2 separate regions of the Homo sapiens genome follow, and region 1 is linked to region 2. The links come from fine-mapping of genetic effects on gene expression. A gene starts in region 2. The other region holds a variant in brackets. All regions are shown on one strand. Distances are from middle to middle. Region 1 has its middle 12 kb from the start of CYP3A7-CYP3A51P. Region 2 holds the start of SMURF1 (SMAD specific E3 ubiquitin protein ligase 1).

Region 1 (5,378 bases), 600 kb before region 2:
ATCCAAATGCACTATATGCTGCCTCTGCTGGGATCTCCAAACACGACCCTCCATGCCATTTCTCAGTTGTATTTTACCACATATTATCAGAGTCACTGGATTTGTACAGAATGTTTGGAACCTATACTGCCTTAAGTGCTACCTGTTATAGAAGAGAAAACAAGGTCTTAATTCAACTATCTGGAACATTTTATGGTTACTTATGTAAAATACTGCATCTTTTGCTATCAACAGGAAGGTACATGGACATTAGAAGGCCCCTGCCTTTCAGCTGAAAGCACATATGAGGCATATGGATCCATTTATATACACCATACTTTTCAGCTGCATTTTCCTAATTTGCCTCTCTGGGGCCAACCTTGTGGGACTAGCAGATTCACGGTTGAATTGATGGCTGGTGATGTCTGCCATCAGCCTTTCTTCTTCCTCTAGTCCTCCGCTCCTCAGTAACATCAGACTGGGAAGGTCTTCAGACATCCAGAACCCCCAGTTGGGGGAGTCCATACATGACCCATCAAAGATGAGTTGCAAGCAGGCCTGCCATAAAGAGCAGCAGCCTTAATGGGTTTTCCTACAGAGATAGTCAATGTACAGAGGCAATAAACTGACTGCTTTGTGATTGATCACCTTGAAAAAATGAGCATGTCTGGATATATTAGTCATTTCTTGCATTGCTGTAAAGAAATACCTGAGGCTGGGTAATTTATAAAGAAAAGAGATTTAATTGGCTCATAGTTCTGCAGGCTCTACAGGAAGCATAGCGACTTCTGCCTCTAGGGAGGCCTCAGGAAATTTACAATCATGGCAGAAGGTGAAGGAGGAGCAGGCGGATCTTACATGGCTGTAGTAGAAGCAAGAGAGGGTGGGGAGGAGGAGCCACACACTTATAAACCACCAGATCTCATAAAAACTCATTGTCACGAGGACAACAGCGAAGGCAGGATGGTGTGAAACCATGAGAAACTGCCCCTAGGATCCAATCACCTCCTATCAGGCCCCACCTCCAGCATTTGGGGTTACATTTCAACATGAGATTTGGGTAGGGGCACAGATTCAGACCATATCACTGGCACTGTGCTTATCAGATGAATATCACCAGTTGGAAGGCTAGATTCCACAAGAGGAGGAATGTCCTGGAAATTGGTTTCTTAAGTTGTGATTCTTCTGCACACTGTCATTCAGGGCAATATGAGTCAATCATTCTCCCCCATAGCTGAAATCAACCAGATCATCTGACCACAGAGACTGAGGTGTAGCTGAAAGGTGCTCGCATTTCTACGAGGCCAGTAGAAGCCTGGAGCACAGTTGTCAATCTGTAGAAATAAGGACTCTGACTCCTCCAAGACCTCTCTGTGAATGACAGTTTAAGAAGGGCCAGATCCTAAAACAGGGTCAGAGCTTAGCAGAAAGGGAAAGCATAAAAGCCTTTGAGCAATTCTAAAGACAGGGCCACAATAGGCTCTCAGTGACCCTCTGTGACTGAGTGGATGCAGCGATGCAAAATCTAACCATTACTGCTGAAGACAAAAAAAAAAAGTCACCCTTTCTACCTAGGATGAGAAGCCCTAAATCAGTGGGGTCCACTTACTAAATAGACATAAAGGAATGAAGTGCCCTGGAAGAATTCCTGCCTGAACCTCTCAGGAGCACTCATGTTTGAGGACACTTATCAAGTATTCACTCCAGGATTGGGACCATGAAAACTTCAGCTGCTTTTAGCTAATCACTGTGACTTTTGGGGTGTCACAGTGCAGGCAGGAAAGGACCTGATGAACAAACATAATCATTGCTGTCGGAGTTACTGTTATTTATTGCCTTAATGTTACCTCCTTCTCCTGAGCATTACATTTCCTCAGTCAGTAACTCACCATCCCCTATATCTATAAAGTCACAATCCTTGAGACATGATTTCTGTTTCACTTTGTAGATATGAAACCCATTCACATGGACTTTTTAAAAATCTTGGCATTCCAGGTCCCAGACCTCTGCTTTTTTTGGGAACTACTTTGTCCTACCATCAAGTGAGTGTTTTTGAGCTCACTCTTTGGCTTCTTATGATTGCAAACAGCAGCTTAGTTCCATCAGTAAAAATGTTTCTCTGCAAAAGGAAGGTCTGAGGTTTTACCCTTTCAGAAACAGTGTGTAGGCATCACCCAGAGCATGGCAATGTTTACACAGGGGCTCTCTTGCTAACTCTCAGGAACCTCAGATTTGCCTAATTTGAACAGCCCAAATCTCAGGTAGATCAGCAACCTGATGTTCAAAACTTGATATGCAGACTTTGTGAACACCATAAAGAAGATTTTCTTTTTGCTCCGTGTAGGTTCCCAGGAAAGTACAGTCATTGTTAGTATTAAAAGTCGGAACAGGATCCCTTGATTGTGGCTTGTTATCTGTGTACATGAGAGTCAAACTTTCTTCTCTGTAGCAAGAGCTCATGAGTAGCCTTTTCCCCCTTCCTCCTGGACAGCTTTGAAACTCAGTTTATTAGGGAGATCAAGTATTTACCATTGGGTCATTTGCACCTGCTTGAATCATCTCCAACAAATGCTAAATTCCCTAAGGGTTTTTCCATGGCTCTACCTTAGCTCTTACTCCCCATGACGTCTTTTGCAGCTTTGAGACACACAAAAAAGGGGTTCTGCTTTACTTCTTTTTATTCAAAGGCTGCACTTTATTAGTGAGTCTGAGGAAGGAGTGGATGTAACTGAGATGAGATAGTGGTTGTCTATCAAACTTGGATCTTTTTTTTTATATAATACTTTCAGTTCTAGGGTACATGTGCACAACGTGCAGGTTTGTTACATATGTATACATGTGCCATGTTGGTGTGCTGCACCCATTAACTCATCATTTACAAGGTATATCTCCTAATGCTATGCCTCCCACCGCCCCCAACCCCACATCAGGCCCCGGTGTGTGATACTCCCTTTCCTGTGTCCAAGTGTTCTCATTGTTCAATTCCCACCTATGAGTGAGAACATGAGGTGTTTGGTTTTTTGTCCTTGTGATAGTTTGCTGAGAATGATGGTTTCCAGC[T/C]TCATCCATGTCCCTACAAAGGACATGAATTCATCCTTTTTTATGGCTGCATAGTATTCCATGGTGTATATGTGCCATATTTTCTTAATCCAGTCTATCATTGACAGACATTTGGCTTGGTTCCAAGTCTTTGCTATTTTGAATAGTGCCACAATAAACATACGGGTACACGTGTCTTTATAGCAGCATGATTTATAATCCTTTGGGTATATACCCAGTAATGGGATGGCTGGGTCAAATGGTATTTCTAGTTCTAGATCCCTGAGGAATCGCCACACTGACTTCCACAGTGGTTGAACTAGTTTACAGTCCCACCAACAGTGTAAAAGTGTTCCTATTTCTCCACATCCTCTCCAGCACCCGTTGTTTCCTGACTTTTCAATGATCGCCGTTCTAACTGGTGTGAGATGGTATCTCATTGTGGTTTTGATTTGCATTTCTCTGATGGCCAGTGATGATGAGCATTTTTTCATGTGTCTGTTGGCTGCATAAATGTCTTCTTTTGAGAAGTGTCTGTTCATATCCTTTGCCCACTTTTTGATGAGATTGCTTGTTTTTTTCTTATAAATTTGTTTGAGTTCTTTGTAGATTCTGGATATTAACCCTTTGTCAGATGAGTAGATTGCAAAAATTTTTTCCCATTCTGCAGGCTACCTTTTCACTCTAATGGTAGTTTCTTTTGCTGTGCAGAAGCTCTTTAGTTTCATTAGATCCCATTTGTCAATTTTGGCTTTTGTTGCCATTGCTTTTGGTGTTTTAGACATGACGTCCTTGCCCATGCCTATGTCCTGAATGGTATTGCCTAGGTTTTCTTCTAGGGTTTTTATGGTTTTAGGTCTTACATTTAAGTCTTTATTCCATCTTGAATTAATTTTTGTATAAGGTGTAACGAAGGGATCCAGTTTCAGCTTTCTACATATGGCTAGCCAGTTTTCCCAGCACCATTTATTAAATAGGGAATCCTTTCCCCATTGCTTGTTTTTGTCAGGTTTGTCAAAGATCAGATGGTTGTAGATGTGTGGTGTTTGTTCTGAGGCCTCTGTTCTGTTCCATTGGTCCATATCCCTGTTTTGGTACTAGTACCATGCTCTTTTGGTTACTGTAGCCTTGTAGTATAGTTTGAAGTCAGGTAGCGTGATTCCTCCAGCTTTGCTCTTTTTGCTTAGGATTGTCTTGGGAATGTGGGCTCTTTTTTGGTTCCATATGAAATTTAAAGTAGTTTTTTTTCCAATTCTATGAAGAAAGTCATTGGTAACTTGATGGGGATGGCATTGAATCTATAAATTACCTTGGGAAGTATGGCCATTTTCACGATATTGATTCTTCCTATCCATGAGCATGGAACATTCTTCCATTTGTTTGTGTCCTCTTTGATTTTGTTGAGCAGTGGTTTGTAGTTCTCCTTGAAGAAGTCCTTCACCTCCCTTTAATTTGGATTACTAGATATTTTATTCTCTTAGTAACAATTGCAAATGGGAGTTCACTCATGATTTGGCTCTCTTTCTGTTATTGGTGTATAGGAATGCTTGTGATTTTTGCGCATTAATTTTGTATCCTGAGACTTTGCTGAAGTTGCTTATCAGCTTAAAAGGATTTTGGGCTGAGACGATGGGGTTTTCTAAATATACAATCATGGCATCTGCAAACAGGAACAATTTGACTTCCTCTTTTCCTAATTGAATACCCTTTATTTCTTTTTCTTGCCTGATTGCCCTGGCCAGAACTTCCAATACTATGTTGAATAAGAGTCATGAGTGAGGGCATCGTTGTCTTGTGCTGGTTTCAAAGTTTTTGCCCATTCAGTATGATTTTGGCTGTGGTTTTGCCATAAATAGCTCTTATTATTTTGAGATACGTTCCACCAATACCTACTTTATTGAGAGTTTTTAGCAGGAAGGGCTGTTGAATTTTGTCGAAGGCCTTTTCTACATCTATTGAGACAATTATGTGGTTTTTTAATCGTTGATTCTGTTTATGTGATGGATTACATTTATTAATTTGCATATGTTGAACCAGCCTTGCATCCCAGGGATGAAGCCCACTTGATTGTAGTGGATAAGCTTTTTGATGTGCTGCTGGATTCAGTTTGCCAGTATTTTATTGAGGATTTTGGCATCAATGTTCATCAGGGATATTGGTCTAAAATTCTCTTTTTTTGTTGTGTCTCTGCCAGGCTTTGGTATCAGGATGATGCAGGCCTCAGAAACTGAGTTAGGGAGGATTCCCTCATTTTCTATTGATTGGAATAGTTTCAGAAAGAATGGTACCAGCTACTCTTTGTACCTCTGGTAGAATTCAGCTGTGAATCCATCTGGTCCTGGACTTTTTGGTTGGTAGGC
Region 2 (5,378 bases):
CAAAATGCCTTTCAGAAACCTCCAGAAGCAACCTCCTGACTCAAAGATTAAGGAAACAGTCAAGCCAACGAAGAACCAGCCGTCGGGGCGGGGAGAAAAACAACAAAATTAAGCAATGAAAGGTTTCCAGGTCAGGAACACCTGGGGATAAGAACAGGAGCCTGCACCCAGGTAAGCAGAGAGTGATGTCTGGTTTTGTTTAGAGAGGAGACTCTTTGAATAGGGGGGAAATACTAACGGGATTGGCAGAAGAATGGGGATTACTTGGGAGCATTAGAGACTGGATGGATTAATTCAGACCCAGGCATTCACTCTCTGTGACAATCATCTACAAATGGAAACAGCTGGATTGTGGCTCTACTGCTATTGCTTAAACATTGCTTATATTCTTGGGTCTTTCTTGAGGATAACTGAAAGAGCCGCAAGGTGCCATAGAAATGACCTAGGACCATCCTTTTATTTGACAGATGTGATGCCTTGAATCCTGCCCAGGAGAGACTCTGCTTTCACTAGGGTCATCCGAGGCAGGCAGGCAGGCAGGCAGGCGGGCAGGCAGGCAGGTATGTCTAGGCGCTCTAGGTAGAAGGCTCTGTTCCGAAGACTGTGACCTTAGGACAGGCACAAGGCTGCAGGGGATGGTAGCAATGGCCCAGAGCCTACTTTCCTTGGGACACACACACACACACACACACACACAGTATTAAAAGAATTTGTTCAAGTTGATTGATGAAGAATCAAATAAAAATAAAAAAGAACTTGTACATGAAAATGGGTAGTGGGGTCTGGGAGCGGTGGCTTAGGCCTGAAATCCCAGCACTTTGGGAGGCTGAAGCGGGCAGATCACCTGAGCTCAGAAGTTTGAGACCAGCCTGGCCAAAACAGCGAAACCCCATCTCTACCAAAAATACAAAAATTAGCTGGGTGTGGTGGCTAACGCCTGTAATCCCAGCTATACAGGAGGCTGAGACACGAGAATCACTTGAACCTGGGAGGTGGAGGTTGCAGTGAGCCAAGACCGTGCCACTGCACTCCAGCCTGGGTGACAGAGTGAGACCCTGTCTCAAAAAACAACAACAACAACAACAAGGTAGTGGGTAAAAAACAAGTTTGATAAACCTAGTTTTCCCTCTTTCTAATAATACCAGTTTATTTCTATAACATGCTAACAGAGAGGAGTTTGTTTGCTGGAGAAAGCGCATAATGAGCTTTTTCTGTGTGTGTGTGTGTGTGTGTGTGTGTGTGTTTTGAGACAGTGTCTAGCTCTGTCACCCAGGCTGTAGTGCAGTGGCCTGATCATAGCTCACTGCAGCCATGAACTCTGGGGCTCAAGTGATCCTCCCACCTCAGCCTCCCAGTACCTGGGACTACAGGCGCGCACCACCATGCCCAGCTAATTTTTGTATTTTTTGTAGAGATGGAGTCTCCCTATGTTGCCCAGGCTGGCCTCAAAGTCCTGGGCTCAAGTGATCCGCCCGCCTCGGCCTCCCAAAGTGCTGGGATTACAGGCTACAGCCACCGTACCCAGCCATGAGCTTTTGGTTCTAACCTGCAACCCCGGGAGAAGGGGAAATTTAGCAGAAGACATGGGAACACAAACCACAATGCCACTTTCTTGTTTGGTAAAATTGTATGCAGAATGGATAATAACAAACATCCGCCTCTCAACTTTATCCCTCCCTCTCATCTCGTTTTCCTTGTCCGTATATGGCACTTCTGCGATTCTGGCAACTTTGTTATGGGTCAGTGGAGCACACCCGTTGCACAGAACACACCTAAGGGCTTTGTCTCTTTGAGAAGTCCCTCCCTTGAACTTGCACGATCGAAAGCTCTTAACTGAAAAAAACTGGTATTGCACGCCTGTGTGCAAGGAGCTTGGTGTGGACACAGCCCACGGTTTCATGCAAACCACTCTTCAGTCACTCAGGAGCCCAGAGCCTCGCAGAGACAGGGGTCAAGACAGAGGGCGACCGCGCGCTGGGTCCCGGGGCCAGCTCTGCTCTCCCTTCCCGGGCTCGGGGCCAGACCCTCCCACCCACCGACCACAGGAAGGGTGAAGACCCCAACCCGCGGGATCCGGGCCCCGCGCGCCCGAGGCAGGCGTGCGGGCGACGTAGCAGCGCACCCCGCCCCGCCCCAGCGTACGTGGCGGGGGCGCGCACGCACGCAGGCGCGGGGGCGCGCAGGGCCGGGCCGGCACGGCGGCGGGCGCGCGCGCGGCTCGGAGAGGCGGCGGCAGCGGCGGAAGCGGCGAGGGCGGCGGGCGTCCGGCTCTGAGGTGGTGGAGGCGGCGGAGGCGGCGGCGGAGGCGGCGGCGGCTCGGGACTGGGCTCGGCTGGAAGCAGCGAGGGTCAGAGCGCCGCAGCAAGCGCCGATCTCCCGGCTCGACCATCCGCCTGCCGCCCGGACGCCTGGGCCGCGGAGTTTGTGTCCCGGCTCGGACCCCGGCGCCCAGCCCGGAGCCGTAACCTTGAGGCGGCGGCGGCGGGGCCGGGCCGGGCCGGGCTGGGGGGCGGTGGCGCTGGATCCGCGGCTGCCCGATCGTTGGCGGGAGATGTCGAACCCCGGGACACGCAGGAACGGCTCCAGCATCAAGATCCGTCTGACAGGTACGGCCGGCGGGAGGCCCACCCGCGCCCCGGCGCCCCCTCGCCCGCCCCGGAATTCCCCGCAGGGCGCCCTTGGAAGCGGCCCTCCCCCACGCCGGCCGTTGTCCCAGGACCTCGTCACCCCCTTCGGCGTGCGCCCCTCGCTTCTCCCTCCTGGCCCCGCCCCCTCGCCGTTGCCCGGCCCCGCCCCCTGGCCGCTCGCGCCCCCTCGGTCTCGCGTTCCCTCCCGTTCCCCCGCACCTGCCCCCTCGCATCTCCGTCCTGGCCCCGCCCCTCTCATTTCCATTCATGGCCACGCCCCTTGCATCTCCTTCCCTGGCCCCGCCCCTCGCTTCTCTTTTCCTGGCCCCGCCCCTTGCATCTCCTTCCAGGCCCTTTCCCCTCACCTCTCCCCGGCTCGGCCCCTTGCCTCTCGCTTCCCTTCCTCTCCCTAGCACCTGACCCCTCGCTTCTCCCCCCAGGCCCCGCCCCCTTGCCTTTCACCTCCATCCCTGTGGTCCTTTCTCTTCCCCACCTTTCCTCCCCAAACCTGACCCCGCCCATCTCTCTGGCCCCACCCCCTCGCTCCTCTCTGCTCCCGCCTCCTAACTTTCTGTCCCCGCCCCCTCGCTTCTCCCTGCGTCCAGCTCCCTCGCTTCTCTCTGGTCCCGCCTCCTCACTTCTTTCCTAGCCTGGGCCCTCACTTCTTCCTGGTCCCGCCTCCTCACTTCTTTCCTAGCATCGGCCCTCACTTCTTCCTGGTCCCGCCCCCTTGCTTCTCTCCTTTTTTTCTCCTCCGCCGTTTTTACCCCCTCCCTCCTTCTCCTCGCTTCCCATCCTCTCCGCCCACCTGCCCCCTCGCTTTTCCCTCCTGGCCTTGCCTCTGTTCCCCTGGTCCCATCCCTCACTTCTCACCACTTTCCCATCATCTCTCTTGCTTTCCTGTTTTCCCTCCCACCTGCTCCCTCCCCTCATCCTCCTGGTCTTTCCCACCACTTCCAAGCTATTTTGCTACCTCCCCTTCCACTTGCCCCCTTGCTTCTCCCCTCCTGCCCCCACCCACCCTCTTCTCACTCCCCCATCCTCTTTCGTTTCTCCCTCACCCCCCCACACCGTCCTCCTCCCTTCTTCCCCTAGCCCCGCCCCTCACTTTCAAGCCCCGCCCTCATTCCTGCCTAGCCCCGCCCCCTCGCTGCTGTCTGGCGAGGCCTCCACCCTTTCTTTCCTTCAGCCTGAAATTCCTCAATCCTATCTTGTAGCTGCTCCCAGTCCTGCTCTCTTCACTTCCCCCTGGTCCAGCCCTCTTCAGTCTCAGTCTGGGCCACTTCCTGTCTCTTAGGCCAGACCGCTAGCTACTTTTAACTCTGCTTCTTCAATTTTTACCTTTTCTGCATTTTGTTTCACCATCACCCCCACACTCAGCAACCCAGAGCGCCGTGAGGCTCTGATCCCTACTCCCACACTCACTGGAGGCTTTGGAAGCTGCCCACACGCAGGCTCCTTGATTCATTTTGTCTTCAATGAAAAGTCCGTGTTTCCTGGGTGGCTCTGTAGTGCCACCTTCAAGGGTGAGCGCAACGCTCTGCCGCGGGCCTGCGACTTGGTGGCGCGGATGTGATGCCAACCTGTTTCCCCCCGGGCTCCAGAGGTTCTGGACCAGGCTGCATCCTCGTCTTCCCTTTCTCACTCTCATTGGTACTACTCTCTTTCCAGTTTCAATTCATCCCTAAAGCAGGATGGCCGTGTTGCAAATGCGGCTCTGCTCCGGGACTTTCCAAACTCGAATATTTCCAGCTCTGGAAGGAAACTAAAAAGTTCATTCTAATCCCCGTCAGGGATTTTCCCCTGGATTTTTCTGTTCAGTGGCTCAGTCGGGTGAGAACTCCAAAGTCCTGGTTTGGTCAGGTCCTTTCAAAGAGAGAATGAGCGTTTTGAACACTTTATGGCAGATGCGCAGCCATAAAGTCATCGGTAAAATCCATGCAAACAATAGGTAATTTTTTTAAACTAAAATTTACTTTGAGAGCCCATAGTTGTTGCATGGCCCAACTTTTGTCTTAAGAGAAGGTTTTGTTTTTTTGTATAAAGATATCAAATAATGATTTGGACCCAAACCCAGACCCTGGTTTTGTAACGTAGGAGGTAGTTTCCTCTGGGATCTTTGCTTCTGGGGAAATACATTTCTTTATGCCAGGGCTGATAGGAAACGCTTCTCACTTTGTAGATACAATGTAGATACATTTTTATTTATGTGGTAAGATAAAAGTAACATTTTTGAGATTGTAATACTTGTAAAGCTTTTAACTTGGTTCTGATTTACAGCTCAGTCTGTAATTGACATCAGATTGGTTTCAGTTATCTTGTTAAAAGCGAAAGCAACTGATTTTGTGTTAGAAATATGATGAATGTTTTAGAAGGAATAGGTTTTAATTGAAATGTTTATGTCTGGTGTATGTATATTAATCAATCCTATTTGCCAAGCCTGAGCCTTGAAAGGGAGGACTTGGTTTCTCCTCCTACCAAATTATTTTTGGATTTAGGAATTTAGATTATCGAAGCAAGAATGCTTTGAGGAATTTTTGGATGACATTTGATAGGGAAGGATCAGGTGATGAGTGTTGTTTCTGAAACACCTTTTCCCTTTCCCTTTCCCTTTCAGTAGATGTTATGAATGGTTTGAGAGGATTTGTGAGTGTGATCATCCTTACAATAGGATTGCGGTTTAGCGGTAATGGTACACATGCAATGCCAGTACGTGGAACCTTAGTTTACCTCGAAAGGTTTGAACTAGAA

What was found. PIP is the estimated chance that this variant, and not a neighbour inherited with it, causes the effect.
Region 1: its variant is the best candidate, but not a certain one, in a credible set for the expression of SMURF1 in whole blood (INTERVAL, PIP 0.62).

What each region holds. Positions count from the first base shown.
Region 1 is chr7:99,744,892-99,750,269 of GRCh38, reverse strand. It overlaps the pseudogene CYP3AP2. Among named protein-coding and RNA genes, the nearest start is that of CYP3A7-CYP3A51P, 12 kb to the right of the region's middle. The variant T/C (reference allele first, on the strand shown) is at 3,040.
Region 2 is chr7:99,140,954-99,146,331 of GRCh38, reverse strand. SMURF1 (SMAD specific E3 ubiquitin protein ligase 1) reads left to right here and starts at 2,224. Exons shown (of 18, transcript NM_181349.3): 1 at 2,224-2,606. The coding sequence starts at 2,552. It also overlaps a transcript of KPNA7 not described here. RefSeq lists silencers at 1,963-2,462, 2,603-2,932, 2,993-3,042.